2 linked regions of the Homo sapiens genome follow. The protein of the gene in region 2 interacts with the protein of the main gene of each other region in a pairwise test. Each region holds a gene or a part of one and is shown on either strand. Other genes may lie near its edges.

Evidence for each region.
Region 1: the proteins of CIT (region 2) and RND3 interact in a two-hybrid assay, tested with the Homo sapiens proteins (one study listed by BioGRID).

Annotation. Positions count from the first base shown.
Region 1 is NC_000002.12:150,467,688-150,470,963, forward strand, and holds the end of RND3 (rho-related GTP-binding protein RhoE precursor), read right to left. Parts: intron 2,552-3,276; coding exon 2,300-2,551; 3' UTR 508-2,299; downstream 1-507. UniProt on the Homo sapiens protein: Binds GTP but lacks intrinsic GTPase activity and is resistant to Rho-specific GTPase-activating proteins.
Region 2 is NC_000012.12:119,706,051-119,713,353, forward strand, and holds part of CIT (citron Rho-interacting kinase), read right to left. Parts: intron 7,245-7,303; coding exon 7,153-7,244; intron 6,646-7,152; coding exon 6,541-6,645; intron 6,298-6,540; coding exon 6,128-6,297; intron 5,044-6,127; coding exon of another isoform or gene 4,999-5,043; intron 4,571-4,998; coding exon 4,490-4,570; intron 4,337-4,489; coding exon 4,201-4,336; intron 2,269-4,200; coding exon 2,129-2,268; intron 1-2,128. UniProt on the Homo sapiens protein: Plays a role in cytokinesis. Required for KIF14 localization to the central spindle and midbody. Putative RHO/RAC effector that binds to the GTP-bound forms of RHO and RAC1. It probably binds p21 with a tighter specificity in vivo.

The sequences.
Region 1 (3,276 bases), on a different chromosome or scaffold from region 2:
TTGTATTATGTTGTGCTGTGTTATTTATCCTTCCACGAATTGCTGCAAAAGCTGTGTTCTGGGTCATCCCCACAACTGCTGTGAACAAGGGCATGCCTTGCGAGGTGGCATGGGTTAAGGACCAAGGCTTAGGACCCCACAGGGCAGAGAGGCAAACTAGGCTTATATTAGTATTAAACCTGTGACTTGAGACTGCATCATATTGCTTCATTCTTAAAGACTTGAAGGATTTCCATCTTTTCTACAAGTTAATCTTAGGCAGTATCATAGCTCTTTTTTGTATATGATCAAATCACTTAATCTAATTATGCCCCATTTTTTTCTTGTGATTTGAAAGCATCATGAAAACTTTTATATATGCAGGTTTATCTGTTACTACTATGAAGAATCAAAAAATTCCAAAGCCTTCTAGTTCAGAAAACGTTAGGCCAGATTCTGTAATCACCTATGTTAAAGAACAAAGCTAAACAGCTAAATCAGGAAGTAGATAATAAAAGACAGATCACATTTAGACAAAGACATGGTTACTTTTTTATTTGAAGAAAAAAAAAGTATGTTTTAATAAATACTGCGGAAACATTGACCAAACAAACATACACAGTGACTTCAACAGTTTAAAAAATGCAACAAAAGTTCTGCTTTATAACAGTTATAACTTATTTTCTTTTTACAATATTTAAATACAGAAAGCACTCGCCAGCTATTTTGTAATACTGCCCAAAGCATAATGCTGCATCAATCAAAGCATATTATGTTGGTAAAATGTCTGTATTTTATGGGAAATGACTGGAATCGAATTTTCTTGCAGAGACAAGACAAAGTGCTTGTAAGACATAGAACTGAGTGTTGTAATTACCTTAATCTCTCCTGCCACGATTTAAGGGGAGCACAGCTTCAACACTTCAAAAACGAAGCACTATCATGGGAAAGAAAGCTCGTTTTCAACAAGCGCCAACAATAAACAGGTCAGATCTGGTTTCTTCTCTGAAAGAATCTCTAAAAGGAACTGGTCAAAAATATCTGTAAACTATTTTAAATGCTTATTATTTTACGTAACAACAGAGACCAAGTGCTGAACACAGACCTTGGCTGCATCTGTTCAGTGAGGTTTTAGCAATGACACTCTAGAAATGCCCTAGTGTTATGTCAGGACTGAAAGTTTATCATATAATCTTCCACTAGGGATTCTCTAAAGCTTGGGTAAGTGGCATCTTCTCTCATCAATGTTCATTTAATGAAAAGTGAAATAAACCAACAGATTATCAGATGCTGTCAGTTTTGGAGCTTCAACCCAAAATAATAGTCCTTTTGCTTTGTATTTTTGGTAACTTAATTCCAGACAGCTTTACTCACAAACTGTGCTTTCTGCTACTATTCTTTCCTTCACTCATTACCTTTTCTGGTGAAAACAGTAACTACCTTTTTTCTCTCCTTGGATCATTCTATGACATCAAACCAAGACACCTTTTATTTGACTTTGCATTTTTATCAACGATGGCAAAAAATCACACAACTTCTAAACAGCGCACAAAAATATTACATTGAGCAATTTACCACTTTTTAATGACAATCACAATGAAGAACAGAACCATCAGACTGAATAAAAATCGACATTTTTTTTCCTATTTGATCTATGCGATCTTTGTAGTGCTGGTCTACAAATCTTGCAAGATTGCAAAGGCTTTCCTTAGAACCATCCTACTCAGCTATCTTCAGGAAGGCAAGATTTCAAAGCCTCATAAAGTTTGCCTCTGGATATATCCCATGGGTCCTGATACAATTTCCTTTTTAATGATGAGCTAGAAAGAAATTAGATCACATCCTCTAGAAAACTAAATGCTAAGGTCACAGTGCCAGTTCCCCCTTGAGGACGGTATATTAACGTATACTTTTTGTAAAGGAGATTAAAACATTTAAAAATTAAATCAAAGTGGAGATCCATGAATAGATTATAACAAAAAAAAAAAACCCAAAAATGCAAGCACCATTCAGAGTGTGATTTTTCTTCTTGGAGGTACTCGCATCCCCCCTCATCTTCCTCTAGCTCATTTGTATCTCTCATTTTTTGGCATATTTTTCAAGTCACACTTAAAAACTCTTCCATGTATTCACTTCTCATCACTTGGTCTACATGCCGAACCTAAGGTCAGGATTCCAAAAAGATGAGTATCCTCTCAAACGCCTCCTAAGCCTCTGGTATACATGACTTTGGCTGTGCACTTCATTTAGACTTCACCTTTTTGTTTGCTGTTGTTTTTTACACTAGATTCCTTTGTCTTCATTAAAGATAATGAAAGATTCACATCACAGTGCAGCTCTTCGCTTTGTCCTTTCGTAAGTCCGTAGCAACTGCCGAGAGTTCTGGTCTGCTAGGCATGTGTGAAATCCGCTTTGTGGCTCTCTGTGATTTGTTCCGCTTAACGTTTTTATTTGTCTTATTTACACATGCCAAGGTGGCAACGTGAAAAATGTCTCTGACGCTATTTTCCGACTGTAAAGCTGAGCATTCGATATAAGTAGCTGCTCCAATCTGTTTGGCCATATTTGCCCCCTGAGAAGCAAAAGAAGGGATTTTAACCAGCAATAAGACTTTGGGGGAAAGTTAGCTAGCATCTTCTAATACCACAAAATAATAACACATTGCAAAACGTTTGCTGATATGTTAACTGAATTTTCCAAGTGTCATTGCAAAAAAAAAAAGTTGTTAAAATGTAAACTGCCTTATTTATTACTTCATAACTATTTGCAGTCCAGAGCCCATCCCTAAGATGCCCAACTCTCATGGCTCATTAGAGGTGTTAGAGCTCTGAATAAATGCTAAAGGCTGATCTTAACAAAGGAAGACCCTGGTTATCAAACACTTAACATGAGGTGATTCAAAGAAGTGTAGAGTGGAGCTAACGAAGTGATTCATCTTCACTATCAACTGCAAGCAAGAGTTAACTGGTTATTCAGGTTTTCCAGGGTCACAGCAAGCATGGAATGGCGCAGAGAAGCTTACTAGTGAAGTAAGTTAGCTGAAGGTCATGAACATAAACTCTGCATTTTCCACACAGCTCTGGCCGTGGCGATGTGGCCTTGAGAACCTGTTCCAGCGCCTCATGGTGCACTTCATTTCTCTTTTCTTGAGGGTAAATGGCATTCAAGACTAGTGACTAGGTTGTACCAAAAACAGGGGCAATGAATGAAATTTAAAATCGATTTTGAAATGTATGTGATTGTGTCTTACTTAGGGCCGAAATGCGTTGAGGAAAGGAATAATACTATTGTAACATC
Region 2 (7,303 bases):
CTGTGCTCCAGCCTGGGTGACAGAGCAAGACTCTGTGTCAAAAAAAAAAAAAAAAAATGTTGATTGAGCGGCTGAATGAACAAATGTGCAGTGTGCTCTCTTCTGAGGGTCAAAATGCGATGGTTTTCAACAGCAGAACGCCAGTAGCCTCAGGGGGTCTATAAACACCTGATTCAGACTTAATTAAAGTTATACATGTACATGTATATATACCCGCAAACACTCTTTTTTATTATTTTCTACTTTAACTTTTAAGTTCACAGGCACATGTGCAGGTTTGTTGTATCAATAAACTCATGTCATGGGGGTTTGTTGTACAGGTTATTTCATCACCTGCGTATTAAGCCTAGTATCCATTAGTTATTTTTCCCGATCCCCTCCCTCCTCCCACCCTCCACCCTCTGACGGGCCCCAGTGTGTGTGTTCCCCTCTATGTGTCCATGTGTTCTCATCATTCAGCTCCCACTTATAAGTGAAAACATGTGGTATTTGTTTTTCTGTTCCTGCATTAGTTTGCTTAGGATAATGGCCTACAGCTCCATCCATGTTCCTGCAAAGGACATGATCTCATTCTTTTTTAGAGCTGCATAATATTCCATGGTGTATATGTACCACATTTTCTTTATCCAGTCTACCATTGATGGGCATTTAGGTGGATTCCATGTCTTTGCTATTATGAGTAGGCTGCAATGAACATACACATGCATGTGACTTTATAATAGAATGATTTATATTCCTTTGGGTATATACCCAGTAATGGGATTGCTGGGTTGAATGGTATTTCCATTTTTAGGTCTTTGAGGATCCCCACACTGTCTTCCACAATGGTTGAACTAATTTATACTCCCACCAACAGTGTATAAGTGTTCCTTTTTCTCCACGACCTCACCAGCATCTGTTATTTTTTGACTTTTTGACTAAAGAAGCAAACAAAGGTATTTTATGTGCCACTTTTCAATATGCCAGAAGCTACAAATGAATTAACTTGAGTTCTCATGAACTTTGTTATGTAAATGTCATAAATTCGAATTTTTAAATTTCTAGTAATGAAACATACTTTCATCTAGTTCAGACATGGAGATCCACATTAGATTTTTTTTAAGGTTCATCTCTCTCTCACAGACACAGCAGACATACACACGCACATGCAAACACACTTATTTTTAAATTATGGATCATCCTTCTAGTTTTGTTAATTTTATTCCCATTTTGCTCTCAGACATTTATTTTAGATTCAAAACCTGTACAAATTTCATGGCTACACAAATTATTTCACGTGCCTAAAGGAGGCAACAGAAATTTAACCTAGTTTGAGGATGTACAATTGTGAAAGTTGTCAGAATCAAAATGGAGCTGCCAATGTTAACAAAACGCTGACATTAGAGCAGGAGGAGGCCATGAAGAGAGGATTCTCACACTTGTGTGCCTGATAAAAAAGAGACTCGACGAAAACCACAAAGGCCATTGCAATCTGTTTTTTTTTTCCCTGTCACCAGGCTGGAGTGCGGTGGCGCAATCTCGGCTCACTGCAACCTCCGCCTCCTGGGTTCAAGTCATTTTCCTCCCTCAGCCTCCCGAGTAGCTGGGATTACAGGCGCCCGCCACCGTGCCCAGCTAATTTTTGTATTTTTAGTAGAGACAGGGTTTCACCATGTTGGCCAGGATGGTCTTGATCTCTTGACCTCGTGATCCACCTGCCTCGGCCTCCCAAAGTGCTGGGATTACAGGCATGAGCCACCGCGCCCGGCCAGGCCATTGCAATCTTACACAAAAAATACTTCTGCAAGGACATCCGCCCAGTGACTATCTGTCCAACCTTAGACAAGCGTCAGTCTTGTTATTAATCTTTGAAGCCAAGGATAATTATTTCAAAAAGACTATGGAATCCTCACTTACAAACCTCTGTCTTCCTTTATCTCCCTAGATACCCACATAGTTTACAATGGCACGTGTATTCCCATTGCAAAGCCCTGTTCCCAAATCAATCTCTTTTCTTTCAAGAGAGCCCCTCTCTGTTTGTTATTTAAGTTGACACTATCTTGAAGGTCAAATCAACGAGCTCTGTGGGAAGAGAGGTAGTGTCAATTTCCAGAACATTCCACCAGCTAGGACTCTGAGGGGAGCTTACCTTGCCTGCCCCAAACAAGTGGCAGCCCTTGACAGCTTCAAAAATGTTGGGTGAGATGTCGGGCTGGGCAGGCAGGTGGGACTGGGCCAGGGACTGTTTCACTTTCTTCACGTCCACAAGACACAGTGCCCGCTCTTCTCCTGAACAGGAAAAGGAACAACCTCTCGTCAGTGTGAAGCCGTTAAGTAAAGGTACGGGATGGTGGTTCTAGTTCTAGTCACAAGTAAAAGTCACAAGAGGCCACACAGATGATCTGAGTTTTCCACAAATCCATATAAACACATTTTAGGTCCATGATTTATTTATTTTTTTTTTTTAAATTTTTGAGACAGAGTCTTGCTCTGTTGCCCACACTGGAGTGCAATGGTACAATCTCGGCTCACTAAAACCTCTGCCTCCTGGGTTCAAGCAATTCTCCTGCCTCAGCCTCCTGAGTAGCTGGGATTACAGGTGCATGCTACCACGCCTGGCTAATTTTTTTTTGTATTTTTAGTAGAGATGGGGTTTCGCCATGTTGGTCAGGCTGGTCTCAAACTCCTGACCTTGTGATCTGCCCGCCTCAGCCTCCCAAAGTGCTGAGATTACAGGCGTGAGCCACCACGCCCGGCCCAAGTCCATGATTTAAATCTAAGACAATAACATTTGGCCTTTTAGTCAAGATTCTGAGGAGGGTGGAATTCTGCAGACATAAAATTGGAGAATGTGAACTGTACTTTCAAACATGCTCCCCAGCAAAGTAAAGAACGAATGTGTGAGGGAGGAATGAGGAGGCATTCTATGAAAAAACAGACTTGGACTATCCAAATATGTGGATGTCAGGAGAGACAAAAGGCTGAGGAACCGTTCAGATTAAAGGAGACTAGAGAGACATGATTAAATGCAATGCAAATTCTGGGACATTATAGAAGCCACAGGTAAAATCCAATTATGGGCAGCATAGCGGATACTTGTATTATAGTAAGGGTAAATTTCCTAAATGCAGAAATTATAGTATGTGAAACTATTCTATATGATACTCTATGTGTGGATACATGTCATTATATGTTTTTCAAAACCCATAGAATGTATACCACCAAGAAAGAACTCTATAATGTAAACTGTAGACTTGGGGTGACAATGATGTGTCACTGTCAATGTGTCAATGTAGGTTCACTGACTCTAACGAACGTATCACTCTGGTGGGGGATGTTGGTAGTGGGGGAGGCTATGCATATATGAGAACGGGGGTATATGGGAACTCTCTGTACCTTTCAATTTTGCTGTGAATCTAAAACTGCTCTAAAGAATAAAATAAGGAAGAGAGGAAGAGACGGAGGAAAAAGAGCTGAGATTAAGAAAGGCCAGTTCTTGTCCATAGTATGTCAGTCCCCGGATCCAGCCATGCCTGAAACAAGACCTAACTGTTGTTGTTTTGAACACTGAATCGATATATTACTCTTTTCCCCTTTAAAAATAATGTCACTAACACAGACAGAGAGAAATAAACTGTACCCTGGTTATGTGACAGAATGTCTTCAATCCTTAGGTTGATATACTGAAGAACTTGGCGTCATACCTGCAACTAACTCTCAAATGGTTCAGGAAAGAGAGAGAGAGAGAGAGAGAGAGAGTGTGTGTGTGTGTGTGTGTGTGTGTGTGTGTGTGTGTGTGTGTGTGTGTTAAGAAGACAGAGAAAAAAATTATGACAAAATATTAGCAAATGGTGACTTGAGAGAGATCACAGAGTTAACAGAGCAAGCAAGCTCTCAGAAGGTCAGGGCCCACGGTGGTTTCGTTGCAATCAGGACAAAGGGTTTGGCTTTAGATAGTCTTCGAGGCTTAGCACTCTTCACTTGGCCTAACAGTGGGATGTTCTTTGGGAATGTCAGACTGTGCTAAACTGGATACTGGAAGGGAACTGAATCTGGACAGAGGGGGTCCATTAGCTGAGGCTTGGGCATCTATGGGGACACAGAGATAAGAGCTACAACGGCTCCTCTCTACTATTTTGTGTTTTACGAGCATGAAACGTGGCTTCAACATATTGGCTCCCTTGAAAGTAAAGAAAAAACACCATGTCCTTGGCCTCACACCTGCTATCATGAGTAGCTTCTCCAGGTCCTTGATAATATAAATTTGGAAGACTGCTCCAATTCCTGGGACATGGGTTAGGGAGTTTTTCAAGACATTCAGGGCGTAGAGCCCTTCCTCGGTGCCCACCAACACCACCTGCAAGGGCAGAAGTCCGAAGGCAGAACATAAGCACGGTCACGTCACCAGAACAATCTCTAGTAAGAGCAACAAGGCCTCCACAGCCCTTTCTTTCTTGATGGGGTGTGGCTGTAACCAGACACCAGCTGGCCGTGCCCATGCAAGCATTACCTGGTCACTGAAGGGCAGCGTGCAGTTCATGTCTAGACGGTCATCACCTTCCAGTTTCAGCAGGGAGTTTCCAAGCAGTTTCTTTTCATAGGTGAAAGAAAAGAAAAACAGAAGACATCGTGAGGCTGATCTGTTTATGACCAAACCATCCAGAGAAACCAAGAGAAGGTTAAGGCCAAGTTATTCCTGGAAATGCTCAGAAACGCACATATGCTCTTAGCTCAGCCCGTATTTTGATCTGAGCTCCAAATGCAAAATGCGAGTGCTATTGGTATCTCTGGGGCAGCTGTTAATTAGCATCTGAGTTATAATTTGGCTGGGATGCAGAAATAAGGGAGGGTAGTAGACATGGAAAGCTATTCTGTAATAAGAAATAAGCTGAAGCTAAGGAGATTTCACCTGCGCAGGGTTAATAAGACACATGAAAGACTCCTTCCCCCATAAGGCTGCAGCAGAAGTGCAAAGGCGCCGTGTTAGCAGCGAGCCAGCACGCCTCTGCATCTCTTTACCTGAACCCAGGCAGGCAGAAGCTCGTAAGAAACACAGTCGCGGGCCTATTGTACACATATTAACAAGGATTTCAGTAAAAGCTCACGTGTGAAACGACCAACAAGTCATCCAAACAGGTCTAACCACTGAGTAAAGCCCTTTTCAGGAGGCTTGTGGTTAAGAATCTGCCAATTGCTAACACATAAAGTGTTTATTAGGAGTGAAGAGTCTGAAAAGAGCTGTTTGGTCTTCGCTGGAGCAAACGTCAATGAGCAATGAGCACTGTTTGTATCCTGGAACATTTTAGGTGGGGTGATGCCAATCACAGCACACCTACGTTTCTAACAGCTTAAGGATAAGTAGGACTCCAAACCTGCCTACGGAAGAGCAAATACTGCAAAAACAACTGAGATGCTTATGAAAAGCCTTCCTGGAGGGGACACAGCTGCCGGCAGCCTATTGTGCTGCTTCGTGGCCAAAGTGCTTCTAACTCAAGCCTTCAAACCAGACAAACTCATTTGAGTAAACAGGAGAGAGGATTTCCTTATAAGTACATTTGCTGCTGCATCACCACAACCAAGGTCTACAATGCCACCAGAGTAGGCTACTGATGCCGATTCCCCCATTCTTTTTCCTTTGCTTTTACAGTCCATGCCTCGCTCTGTTGCCCAGGCTGGAGTACAGTGGCACAATCGTAGCTCACTGCAGCCTCAAACTCCTGGGCAATCCGCCGGCCTCAGCCTCCCTACTAGCTGGAACTACAGGTGCATGTCACCACACCTGGCTAACTTTCTTTCTTTCTCTTTTTTTAAGAGATGGGATCTTGCTATCTTGCCCAGTCTGGTTTCAAACTCCTGGGCTCAAGTGATCCTCCTGCCTTGGCCTCCTGGGTCACTGGGACCACAGGCATGAGCCACCGCATCCCTGATTCCCACATTCTAAATGGATCATGATGCCACACAAGCTACCTTGGTGCTTGTGCCTTCATCACCACCAGACTCCTGGCCATGACACAGTCTAGAGCCATCAGCCCTCAGAGAGAGAGCCTGAGGGGAATCAAAATGGCCAATGGGATTCTCGTCGTTAACACCAGTTACCAAGTCAGCCCCCTTTACAAAGACAACCTCCAGGGCCCGCTTTCATACTCACAGCATCAGCTTCTGCTTTTTCCCTAGAAACTCTCCCACCTGCGACAACTGATTCTAAGGCGGTGACCCAGCGCTGTTTGTCAGGGAAGCTGGGAGCTAGCAAGTAGAGGGTTCTCCCGGGCCAGCAGGTGGTGTGCGGGTGAGATTCCATCTTCAGTATGTATGGGACATCTAGGAGATTTCAGAGAGCACAGGATTGGGTGTGGATTTCCCCCGTTCCCACTGGGAGGGACGGGCCTGAGAGATCAAAGATGCCCACCAAACCACGCAAATCCCAGTTACCGCCAAGGCGGGGAGCGGAGGAAGATGGGCCTCCTTTGCAGAGCCAATCTTCCCTGTACCACCCCTTCTGTCCCTGCTGATTGGCCAAGCCCGGCCCACCTCCAGGGCGGGGCTCCTCCGGCTCCTCCTCACCTGCTTTGGCTGTATTTGCGAGTTCGGAAGCACCAACGGCACCATGAATAGATACATCCCCGTCGGGAAGGCACAGCTCAAATTCTTCCACCGGCCTCTGTCCAGCTTGGTGCAAAGAGGAAGGGCAGAAAGAAAAACAAAAGAACAGGAACAAGAACAAGGGGAGAAGAGAGAGCGAGAGAGACAGCAAGGGAGAGAGAGACAGGGTACGTGTGTAAAGAGAGGCGCACGAGAACAAGGAAGGGACAGAGGTGTGCAGAGAAGGCAGAGAGGGAAGATAAAAAAAAATAAAGTGTGTCAGATGAGTAGCACAGTCAAATTTCTGATGACGATGCGGATTTATGGGTTAGTTGACTGAGGCAGAAGTTCTCGGAAGGTGTATTAGCAGGTGGAATCTTCAGGGCAGCGCCCTGCGGGTTCTTCAGGGGGGAGACCTATAGATGTGAGTATCGCACCAATAACCTTTAGAGAAGTCATTTGGTTTGTAAGTTTCAAAAATGGAAAAGCGTAGAAGGCTTGCAAGGCAGTCCAAAAAACAAAGCCTTCGCGCCAGCACTGGGGAGACCTGGGTTAGCCACGTGCAATGACCTTCCCCCTGAATTATTAATTTACCTTCTCTGGCTTCATTGTCATAAATGAGGACTTTTGATCCCTCCAGGACAATGTACTTCCTGTCCCAGCCTTGCTGTCCTCGTTTGTTATTCCTGGGGAAAGAAAGATGGAAAAGAAAAATGTCTGAACTCAGAAGAAACATCCGGCTGGA